3 linked regions of the Homo sapiens genome follow. The protein of the gene in region 1 purifies or fractionates together with the protein of each later gene. This does not show direct contact. Each region holds a gene or a part of one and is shown on either strand. Other genes may lie near its edges.

Region 1 (3,500 bases):
ACAAATTACCACAAATTTAGTGGCTTGAGATCATGCAAATTATCTTACAATTCCAGAGGCTAGAGTCAGAAATCGGCCTTATGGGGTTAAAATCAAAGGCTGCATTCCTCACAGAGGCTGTAGGGAAGAATCCATTGCTCGTCCTTTCCAGCTTTGAGAAGCTGCCTGCATTCCTTGGCTTGTGGTTGCATCACTCAAATGTCAGCTTTCATCATCACGTTGCCTTCTCTGACTCTGATCCCACTGCCTCCCTCTTTTTTTTTTTTTGAGATGGAGTCTTGCTCTGTTGCCCAGGCTGGAGGGCAGTGGTGCGATCTCAGCTCACCACAACCTCTGCCTCCTGGGTTCAAGCAATTCTCCCGCCTCAGCCTCCTGAGTAGCTGGGATTACAGGTGTGTACCACCATGCCTGGCTAATTTTTGTATTTTTTTTTTTACTAGAGGGGGAGTTTCACCATGTTGGTCAGGCTGGTCTCCAACTCCTGTCCTCGTGACCCGCTCGCCTCAGTCTCCCAAAGTGCTGGGATTAAAGGCGTGAACCACCAGGCACAGCCTGCCTCCCTCTTTTAAGTACCCTGATGATTATATTAGACTCATCAAATAATCCTGGATAATCTCTCCCTCTTATGATCCTTAATTTAATCACACCTGCAAAGTCTCTTTTTCCAGTAAGGGAATATATTTACAGAATTAGAGATTAGGATGTGGACATTTTTGGGAAGTCATGTTTCTACCTACCACAGGGTCTTACCCCAGGTGGCACATAGGTTCATGTAAATACCCAACAGAATAAAATTCCTTGTCAGCTAGTCAGCCTCCTAGTTTACAGAATGGGACAGAACCCTCAGGAAACACTGCCCAACAGAGGCGTTTGGTCGATCTCCGCTGTTTGGTGTATGTCCAATCTCAGTGCCCCCAGAGCAGATTATTCAAGAGATCCCAGCTGGCTGCACAGGGATATGAAACAGGAAAGGAGGCACTAGTATGGGTCTGGGGTCTGCTTGGATGACTTCTCACCATCTTCTTTTTTTTCCTCTTGGGACCAAGGTTGTGGGATATAAGGGAGGAAAACGACAGCTCTTCTTCACCTTCACGTCAGCTGTCCCCAGTGCCCTGCCCAGAAGGACACCTACTGAAAAAGCCCTGCCAGCTGATGGAAAAGCTCGACCATGCACCAGCTGATCTCTTTAAAAGTTAAATCTTTAAGCATTAATGCAGTGCTGAAGGAGTATTAATATTTTTGCCCCTGGGCAAAGGAACACTTGCTACTAGAGAAACAGGAGTGCTCTGCCAGCTCATCTTGGCTCCAGAGAAGGGCTTCGCACTTGTGAAATGTGTTGCTCGTGAAACAATTTCAAGACTTTTGGAATGAATAGCTGCCACCCATACCCGCTAGCTCCTCCACCAGCCCTCCCTATGCCACGTTTATGATGTCTGAGCTCCTGCTATGACTATTCCAGTCCCATGATGTCAACTTGGACTTGGCTGTTAAATAGGCCTCCTCTCCCTGGGGCTAGCACAAAGGAAGCCTGTCGAGAGGCAGCCAGGCTTCCTGACCACAATTTCCTGCACCTTTGCTCAAAGTGCCACACGTAAAAAATTTTATGGCTACTAATCAAACCAGGGCCTGAAATCACAGAGGGGGATGCTGACTGTCTGCTCCCCACAGCCCTCTTTGTTTGATTAGCCATTGTATCACTCCGGTGCTATTTAGGATCTGAAATAAATGCTAAAGTGAATTTCCGAACAATAAAATTCACAATAACAGCCACTAAATAGGGACCCACTGGTAACCACTTCCTGTAATAAAGTCCATATGTCAGCTTGACGCATTGCACCAGAAACTCAGGCCCTTCTCTCTTTGTAAATGCAGAAAAGCTTTTGTGTGCAGGCAACAGAGCTTCACCTGATGATAGCAGTGGAGTCTGGGGCCTCACAAAAGCAGGCAGGTGGCTCCAGGCTCCTGTCTCACCAGGTCGGCTCCTGTATCTCTGTGTGACCTCTCACCACAAAGTATTCCCCTGTATGCTTGGTACCCGTTGTCTGCTTCCAAGGTGAAATTCTCCTTCTGGTTTCTTGACCCTTGACAACCTGAGCTGCCTCCTCCCCCATGATACTTTACTCCTTTTCATCCCAACATACACCTCTGCTCCAGCCTCCTTCTCTGGAGTCTTGCTGAGAAAATTCCAACTGCCTATGGACCTCATGCAGAGACAGTCCTTTTTGCCCCAACCACTACTGTGCTCCCATTTCCCAGTCTGCTCCTCACTCAACTAAAGGCATCTAGGGACCTACTTTCCCCAGGATAACATCAACTCCAGCCAGCACAGTCCTCTCCCCTTCCCACCTGACCACCCATGGCACTGAATTCTGACCGTATGGTGGTCAGACAGTAGCCTCCTCACTGGTCTTGGTCTCAGGTACACAGGAGCCCTGCCAAGCCACTCTTACTGAGCTCTCTACAAGAACAGAGATGGGTTCCACCTCTTCCTCTCTCTGAGTTCTCTGGATCTTTTCCAGGGCAGCTCCACCTTCCTAATACTACATGTAATGTTCCAGGAAGGGCCTCTCTTGTCCTAGAAGTTTTATATCAAATAATATTTTTCTATCTTCATTTTCTCTCTTTGAAGTTGCCCAAAGCAGTGGCCACAAATTCAAGAGTTGAATGTAAATGTCATATCCTTCTGGCTTTGTGAGACTAGGCCAACAGCTGGGACTGGGCATCGGGCTTTGCCTGAGTCCACTCTGAACCCCATCTCCCCACCTCATCCAGACATTTCTTCCTTTTCCTAGAGGACTCCCCTTGTGCTCACTGGGTAAGGGAGCTGCGCCACCACATCACCACATTATCATATCCAAACCTGCCCCCGAGGGGTTGACCTGCTCATCAGGAACATTTTGGCAACACACAGCTCTGTTGCTTGTGCCTTGTCCTGGCACACAAAGATACAGGTACAAGAGCCAAGGCGACTCATCACTGACAGTATTCTCAGCCTGGACACTGATAGGGAATGTTATCGAGCTATTGTTAACTAGCTGGGCAAATGCTTCAGCCCAGCGGCACCCCCGAAACAGTGTGGCAGATGCTACCCTGTAGCCAGCTTGTCATCATAAACGGGTCTCCATTTTCAGAGAAACTTGAATTAACAAAAAAGATGGCCCTCTGAAGCCCAGGGCTCTTGAGATATAGAAGAGTTGTTTGCTTGGCACTAGCACTCTGGTCACCTTCCAAGAAGCAATTAGGTGAGGCCTGGCTTTGTGTTTAATTAAGTAATTAATTGTTAATTTGAGTAGATAATATACACACATGGGAAAAAATCAATCAGTACTAAAGGTTTTCTTTTCTTTTTTTTTTTTTTTTTTTGAGACGGTGTCTCACTCTGTCACCCAGGCTGGACTGCAGTGGCACGATCTTGGCTCACTGCAAGCTCCGCCTCCCAGGTTCACGCCATTCTCCTGCCTCAGCCTCCCGAGTAGCTGGGACTACAGGTGCCCGCCACC
Region 2 (3,500 bases), on another chromosome or scaffold:
AGGTGCAGGCCAGCCACTAAGGCACAACCGGCCCGCCTCGTGCGGGAACAGACCCTTCTCCATCTGGACCCAGGCCTGGGCTGGGTGGCGGGAGAATGGTTCTTTTGCTGAATCTATGAAATGGAAACTGGCAAAACTGCCAAATGAGGGCGAGTCAGAGGCCAGCGAGATGTGTCCGGATGGGGTGAGGAAGAGCCTCCTGGAACGGCAAAGGGGAGATGCTCTAAGGTGAAGGATGAGAAAGCAGAGCCCAGGGAGTGCAGAGGGCAGGGGAGACCGGAACAAAAGCGGGAACAGCCATGGCGATGGGGGGATGGGTACAGGATCTTTGTAGCCAAAATCATCAGGAATTTTCCATGTCGTCTCCAGGGACTAGCCCTGCCCCCAGCCTCACCCCTGCAGGCCCAGCCGCTCCCGCAGCTTCAGCCAAGCCGCTGCCTCCCGGCCCCTCCCTCTCCTGCCCGGACCCTGTCCCCTCCCAGGCCGGCCACGTTCCTGCTTCCCCAGACCCCCGGCACCACCCTGGAGCCCGGAGTGCCCGGTACCCACCTGAGGGCAGGTCGAGCTCCACGCCGACCCACGTGCCCTCTTGGAAGTCGGCAGGCCCCACGTATCTCACCACGCCCGTTTTGTGGGCGCCCACGGTGACGAACTCGCCCTCTCGGAGCCACTCCGGGACCTCGTCAGCTTCCTCGGAATCAGAGGCCAGGGCCTGTCCCCCGGCGCCCGGGGCCGGCGCATTCCCCTCGGCCCCCGGGGAGCAGCCGGGGTCCCCAGCCAGCATGCGCGAGAAGGAGCGCAACTCCGAGGCCCGCACCCTCCGGACGCGGAACGGGGAGCCGGGCGCCGGGGCCTCGAGGTCGGGGCGCTCCCGACCGGGGCTCACGAGCTGCTGGGGGCCAGGGGGCTCCTCGGCGGGGACGGCCGTGGGCGGTGGGGGGTGGCTGATGGGCGCCTCGGGCTCGGCCTCAGGGGCGGTGGGCATGGACCCCGGCGGGGCCGCAGCGTCCAGGCCGGGGCCCAGGGCGTCCGACAGGGTCGCGGTGGAGACGCTGTGGGAGAAGTACCCGCTAGAGGCTTCACTCAGGGGGCTGGGGGGCCCGTCCTGTGCCTCCGGAGCCGGGGTGACCGCTGTGACAGCTATGACAGGCGGTGGGGAAGGCACTTTGGCAGGTTTGTCGCAGATCTTCAAGGCCGGGGCCCCCATCGTCTGCACCAGCACGTCAGGGCCCATCTCCGGCTGAGCCTGCAGCAGGACGGGGAAGCAGGGGCTGAGAACAGAAAACTTTCCAACACGAACCAAGCAGGCAGCTTTGACTTGGAAAAGAGCATGAGGCCAGGGGCAGTGGCTCAGCCTGTAACCCCAGTGCTTATGGAGGGCAAGACGGAAGATCGCTTGAGCCCAGGAGTTCAAGAACAGCCTGGGCAACATAGTGAGACCCCGTTTCGACAAAATAAATAAATAAAGAACATGGCTGGGACCCGGCCAGGCCCTGGTTCCCACACTGGTTCTGCCACTTAGGGCTGCATGGCCCTGGCTTCCAAAGTGATAAAGGTTGAGGGGCCGACAGTGCACCCCGCAGGCCCTGTGCTGTGTGCCCAGGCTCAAGAGCACTGACCATGGCCACAGCCCCTGCCCCATCTACTTTTTACCTTTCATACAAAATAGAATCCAGGGCCTGCCATGCAGGGCCAGCACGCTACAAAGACCAAGGCCCCTCGCCACAGAGGGCAGCACACAGTAGGTGCACGCTAAAACCCTGCTAGGGCTAGTTAGCTTTCCTCCCATGGAGACAAAGCCCCTGCCCACCCCCAACCTCACGAAGAGACTGAGTCACTAAAGAGACCAGAAGAGCACTTTTTTGTCCGGCAAAACCTAAACAATGATCTCATCGGAGGACCGGAACACACTCAGCACAGCCTGGCCAGCTCAGGCACCAACAAGGAGCCACGGGCCTGCAGCCTGGCTGGGCATCCCGAGCAAGGCAGCAGGGGGACGAGGAGGGGTACGAGGAGGGGTATGAGGAGGGGGACGAGGAGGGGGACGAGGAGGGGGACGAGGAGGGGGACGAGGAGGGGGACGAGGAGGGGGATGAGGAGGGGACAAAGGCTCCCTGTGGGCCGTGGCCCTTTCTCTCCAAGGCTGCTGCTCTGGCTGCTATGGAAAGCAGGTGCCATGTCAGGGGCTGGGGGGGCCTCGGACCCTGGAGAGAGGCCAGGAAGCAGCCCCCAGGGAGAAGCCACCAAGTGAGGCCAGCAGCTCTCCTCATGTCGGTCACTCTGTCTGAGTCACCCAGGCAGAGGACACACACACACTCAAAGCCCACATCTCATGGGGGAGAGCAGCCACCGCTTGCCCAAATCCTATTGTTTCTGGGGCATTCTTTCATCTATAACTGAAGCCATGTGAAGAGGCTGCCAGATCATCTTTCTATTCCTATTCACAGTGACCGAAGAAAAGGAGAAGGCAGGAACAGGGAATGAGATTGGTGGGGTGGAGAGCACTGCTATCCAGAAGAAATATGTTTTCCGATATTTATGGAAAAATTATTTATATTACAGGAATGGTCATTTTCCATTTGAAATACGGGATTTATTTGAATGGGGAAGCGGCTGAGATCTATACGTCTCTTACAGTTACTTGGCTTACCTCAGCAGCTTGATAAATCATGCGTTTTCCCAGGAACTGTCCTTTATATTCCCGTTTCCAGGGGCCCTCTTTTCCCCACCAACCACACTTTCAGGGTAGGAAATTAATGGCACCTCTTGAGATTAACAGCCCATTTTTGTGGTGAATCTCTAGGCTGCAAAATTTACTCAATCCAATAGATCAATAACTGTCACCAGCATAAATACTCTAAAAGATTAGGCAATCCTTCAATCATTCTTCCTTTGCACATTGTCCATGTTTTATTTATTCTCTTCTATTTTAGTTTTAATATCACTGACCCAACAGGGGAGAATACGCAAAACTATGAGAGCCGGGAATCTGAACGGTAACCAGGGTCCTGAAATGGCTTCTGTTCCCCGCCCCCACCCCGGGTAAGGCCAGCCACTGTCACTTCCCCAGGCCAGGCTCTCCCAGGATGAGGCCAGCTGCATGCCTCAGATTTGCAAGTATCATCATCCCATTGGCTTCCATGTAAGACACTGGCTTGGGCTGGGCTGGAAGGATCATGGCATTATTCTACAGCAGGCCTCCAGAGGGGAAAGCCCTCATCCAAGGCTGCACTAAGTGAAAAGGCAGGCACTGGGGGCAGAGCTGCAGAGTCAACAAAGCAGGGAGCAGGATGGTGGAAAGCACAGACTGGCACTCCAGGCCCCATCCCCACTTGACTGGAGTTGATTTGTGAGTTGAAACCCAGATGCCATCTATGGATTATACCCTTGCCACTGAAGAAGACATTTCTGGAGACTTCTGCAAAAGCCCAAGCTTGGAAAACCACCATGATGAGCTACAGAAGCTGCTGCCTTCACTGGCAAGGGGCTTGCTCTGACCA
Region 3 (3,500 bases), on another chromosome or scaffold:
GAGGGTAGTGAGGAGTGACTGCTTTGTGGGTACGGGGTTCCCTTTTGGGGTGATGAAATGTTTTGGAACTAGGTAGAGGTGTGCAACACTGTGAACCTATTAAATGCCTCTGCATTGTATATAATTGTAAAAATGGTGAGTTTGATGTTATCTGAACTTCACCTCAATTAAAAAGGAAAAAAAGTATCATGGATGTAAAAATGTTGATTTAAACTGGGAAAAAGGGGCCCTGCAGTGCCTGTCTCTGGGTAGAAATGGACGGGGACTGGGGAAGCCACTTAGCTTCTTTGAGTCCCAGAGAGCTGGAGGCTGCCCACCAGGTGGTAGGCAGGTGCTACACCCAGGTGGGCCGGCAACAAGGCTGAGGGGGGCTTTTGCATACGCCCTGACGCTGAAAACTCAGGGGTGCAGGCTGAAGTGACACCCCAGGTAGCCTGTATCTTCTATGTCTCAAAAACAAATCTGAGTTGGTAACATTAAAGAAAAAGGGGAGGTGGTGGCGGTGATGTAGGGATCCAGATTTCCAGCTTCCAGAAAGGAAACAGATGTCTCACGGGCCCACAGTTCCATATGGTCAGGACGGGCCGGGGATGGGCGGCCCCTTTGGCTGCCCACTGTCTTCCCTGTTGGCCACAGCCCCCGCCACTCCTTCCTGTTTTAAAACCTCTGCCCACCTGACACATGTCTGGCCCCAGCAGGCACGCACTGCAGTTGTCATCCTTCTCCAGATGTGCCTCATTTAAAGAGAAGGGCCTGGAGCCAGTTAGTGACCCAGGTTTTGTTGGATCCCAAGTGACCCCGAGATGGTGACCAAAGAGGACCAGCTGGAGGCAGGTGGTGGCGGAAGGCAGTGGAAGGAGGGAGGAAAGGGCTCCCTTCTCACGTGGCCCGGGTGCCACCCCCACTCTTGGGGGATGTTTTGTATCTTTCAGTTCTCAGACACCTTGCATCAGAGTCACAAGGGCCGAAGGATCCTGAGGGGCCGGGAAAGGCCTCCCCTCTCCAGCAGAGCCTTGGGCCTTTTCTGACACAGGGCAGCCTTCTCCTGGGCACTTCTCTCCCTCGGTTTAGTCTCCCGATGCAAGTACACAAATTGCCGAGGATGGTCCCTGTGCCAAGCAGGTCCTGCCCCGAGAGGCTCAGGAAATAGACCCAGCGTGTCCTCTCCACTCCTTTTGTCTCAGTCGGCTCATAAGTGAGCTGCTTTGCCTCTTTCCACCCTCCATCTCCCAGCTCTAGATTCAGGGGTCCCTAAACCATGGCCTAAGGGCCCAGGCCAGCCTCCATCTGTCTTTGTGAATACAGTTTCACTGGGTACAGCTGCTCGCATTCCCTTATACCTCTGCAGTCGCAGGGCTGAGTTGCAAAGCCCAAGACCTTTACTCTCTGGCTCTTCACAGAAGCGGTATGCCAGCCCTGTGTGAATCCTTTCCTGGACTGAAGCCACACTACCTGCTCTCCCCATCACTCTGTGTTCATGTCCAGAGTCCTGGAGGTACCCTTCCTGCCACACCAACAGGGAATGGGACAGGACTTCATAACCCGGCGGCCAAGAGCTTTGACTCTGCAATCAGATGGCTCAGGTGCAAACCCCTGAGCACATGTGTGGCCCCGGCGATTTGGGTAACTTCTCAGGATGGTGCCTACCCTACAAAGGCTCCTTGGAGGATGGCACGAAACGGAACTAGTGAAGCATTCATGCCTGATGAGCTGGTGTGGACCAGCTACTGCAGGGGGTGGGGACTCTGCCTGCAGCTGACGTCCTCACCTAAGGTGACAACCCTGGGCCCACTCCCTGCCTCTCCACGCCGGTGACCGCCTGTGTGATGTGGCTGCCCATGCCCATGGTGCTTCTCACCACCCTCGGCCACACCGGTCACCTCTCTGTGACTGGGACTCACCGCCCTGATTCTGAGCACAGGGTCTTTGTACTCCATCTTCCTCCTCCTCAGAACACTTGCTCTCTGGCTGGTCACAAGACCTGCTCCTTTCTGTACTTTGTTCTCATTAAATGTCCATTGAGCGCCATTCTGGAGCCGCCACCCCTCTCTGCTAGTCCCGCCACCGCTGCGTCTCCTTCATGCGTTTTTCACCAGCGGAAGTGGCCCTTTGTTCACTTGTTCACATCTTGTTTCATCCATGAGGTCCAAGTCCGTGTCTCTCCAGGTCAACTCTAATCTCAGTGTCTTGCACAAAGTTCAAGAAATGAATGAACCCCAGTCAGCTGGGCCCATCCCCCGAGTCCTCGTCCCCTTCTCCTGTTCCTGGGTCCCCCTTCTGCTGTGAGCTGGCTGGCTCTGCCTAACCTCCCCACGCCACAGCCAGGATCCCCGTGGATCAAGGTGGGCCAGGGCTTCCCAACCTTACCACTGCGGACACTTTGGGGTCAGATCAAACTCTGTGGTGGGGGCCGTCCTGTGCGTTGCAAGATGTTTTGCCGCATCCATAGCCTCTGCTCACTAGACGCCAGCAGCACCCCTCCATCACACACAATTGTGACAGCCAAAACTGTCTCCAAACATTGCCAAGTGTCCCCTGGGGGACAGAAAGCCCCCAGTTCAGCCTGCTCTAGGCTGACTGCTCAGAAAAGAGGGACAGAGTGTCTTGTCGGAGACTCTAGCAGGGGGAAGAATGCCAGGCAGGAGATGGGGCTGGAGTCCCCAAATCAGCCACGTGACCCAGTCTTTCCTGTCCATCATCCCCTGATGATCACCCCTGCCCTGCTCACAGGGCTGTTGAGAGGTGCAGGTCCCGGCTCTGACATTACACTCACATGAGGATTCTGACCAGGGCTGAGCTGACTCTCAGCTACTTTTAGGTATTTTTCTTTCCTCTAAGCATTAATAAGGGGAAAAGAGCTGAATTTCTCCCTGCCAGATCTTGTATTATTTAAAGATTATCGACTGTGCCACATATTGAAGCAAGGAGATGCTGGCTGTGTAATCCAATCTGGAAACCAATCATTCTGTTCAGCTAGAAAAGTTAATGTAGTAGTTCCTAATCAGCTGGTGAGGAAATGTAACGGAGGGTCATCAGCTGGGAAACGGTGTTTCAGGCAGTGGCTGGGCTGTTATGGAGAGAGACTTATCTGCTCCACGATGAAGACATTTGCTGCCTGGCTGGCTGGACCAGAGGAGATCACTGCGCCTGCCGTCAGAGACCTCAATCTCTAACTAGTCTGTGGTACAATATCATCCGTCTTATAAAGAATGGAGACTTTTTGTTTTTTTTGAGACAGTCTTGCTCTGTCACCCAGGCTGGAGTGAAGTGGCATGATCTCAGTTCACTGCAACCTCCCGCTCCCAGGTTCAAGCCATTCTAGTGCCTCAGCCTCCTGAGTAGCAGGGACTACAGGCGCCCACCACCATGCCTGGCTAATTTTTGTATTTTTAGTAGACACGGGTTTCACCTTGTTGGCCAGACTGGTCTCGAACTTCTGAGCTCAGGCAATCCGCCTGCCTTGGCCTCCCGAAATGCTGGGATTACAGGCGTGAGCCACT

Evidence for each region. Proteins that work in one complex are often made in the same cells at the same time.
Region 2: the proteins of TGFBI (region 1) and KIF13B purify together in Homo sapiens (affinity purification with mass spectrometry; one large-scale study listed by BioGRID and IntAct). This does not show direct contact.
Region 3: the proteins of TGFBI (region 1) and SULF2 purify together in Homo sapiens (co-immunoprecipitation; one large-scale study listed by IntAct). This does not show direct contact.

The regions. Positions count from the first base shown.
Region 1 is NC_000005.10:136,035,488-136,038,987, reverse strand, and holds part of TGFBI (transforming growth factor-beta-induced protein ig-h3 precursor), read right to left. Parts: intron 1-3,500.
Region 2 is NC_000008.11:29,071,071-29,074,570, forward strand, and holds part of KIF13B (kinesin-like protein KIF13B), read right to left. Parts: intron 1,247-3,500; coding exon 550-1,246; intron 1-549. UniProt on the Homo sapiens protein: Involved in reorganization of the cortical cytoskeleton. Regulates axon formation by promoting the formation of extra axons. May be functionally important for the intracellular trafficking of MAGUKs and associated protein complexes.
Region 3 is NC_000020.11:47,666,982-47,670,481, forward strand, and holds part of SULF2 (extracellular sulfatase Sulf-2 isoform a precursor), read right to left. Parts: intron 1-3,500. UniProt on the Homo sapiens protein: Exhibits arylsulfatase activity and highly specific endoglucosamine-6-sulfatase activity. It can remove sulfate from the C-6 position of glucosamine within specific subregions of intact heparin.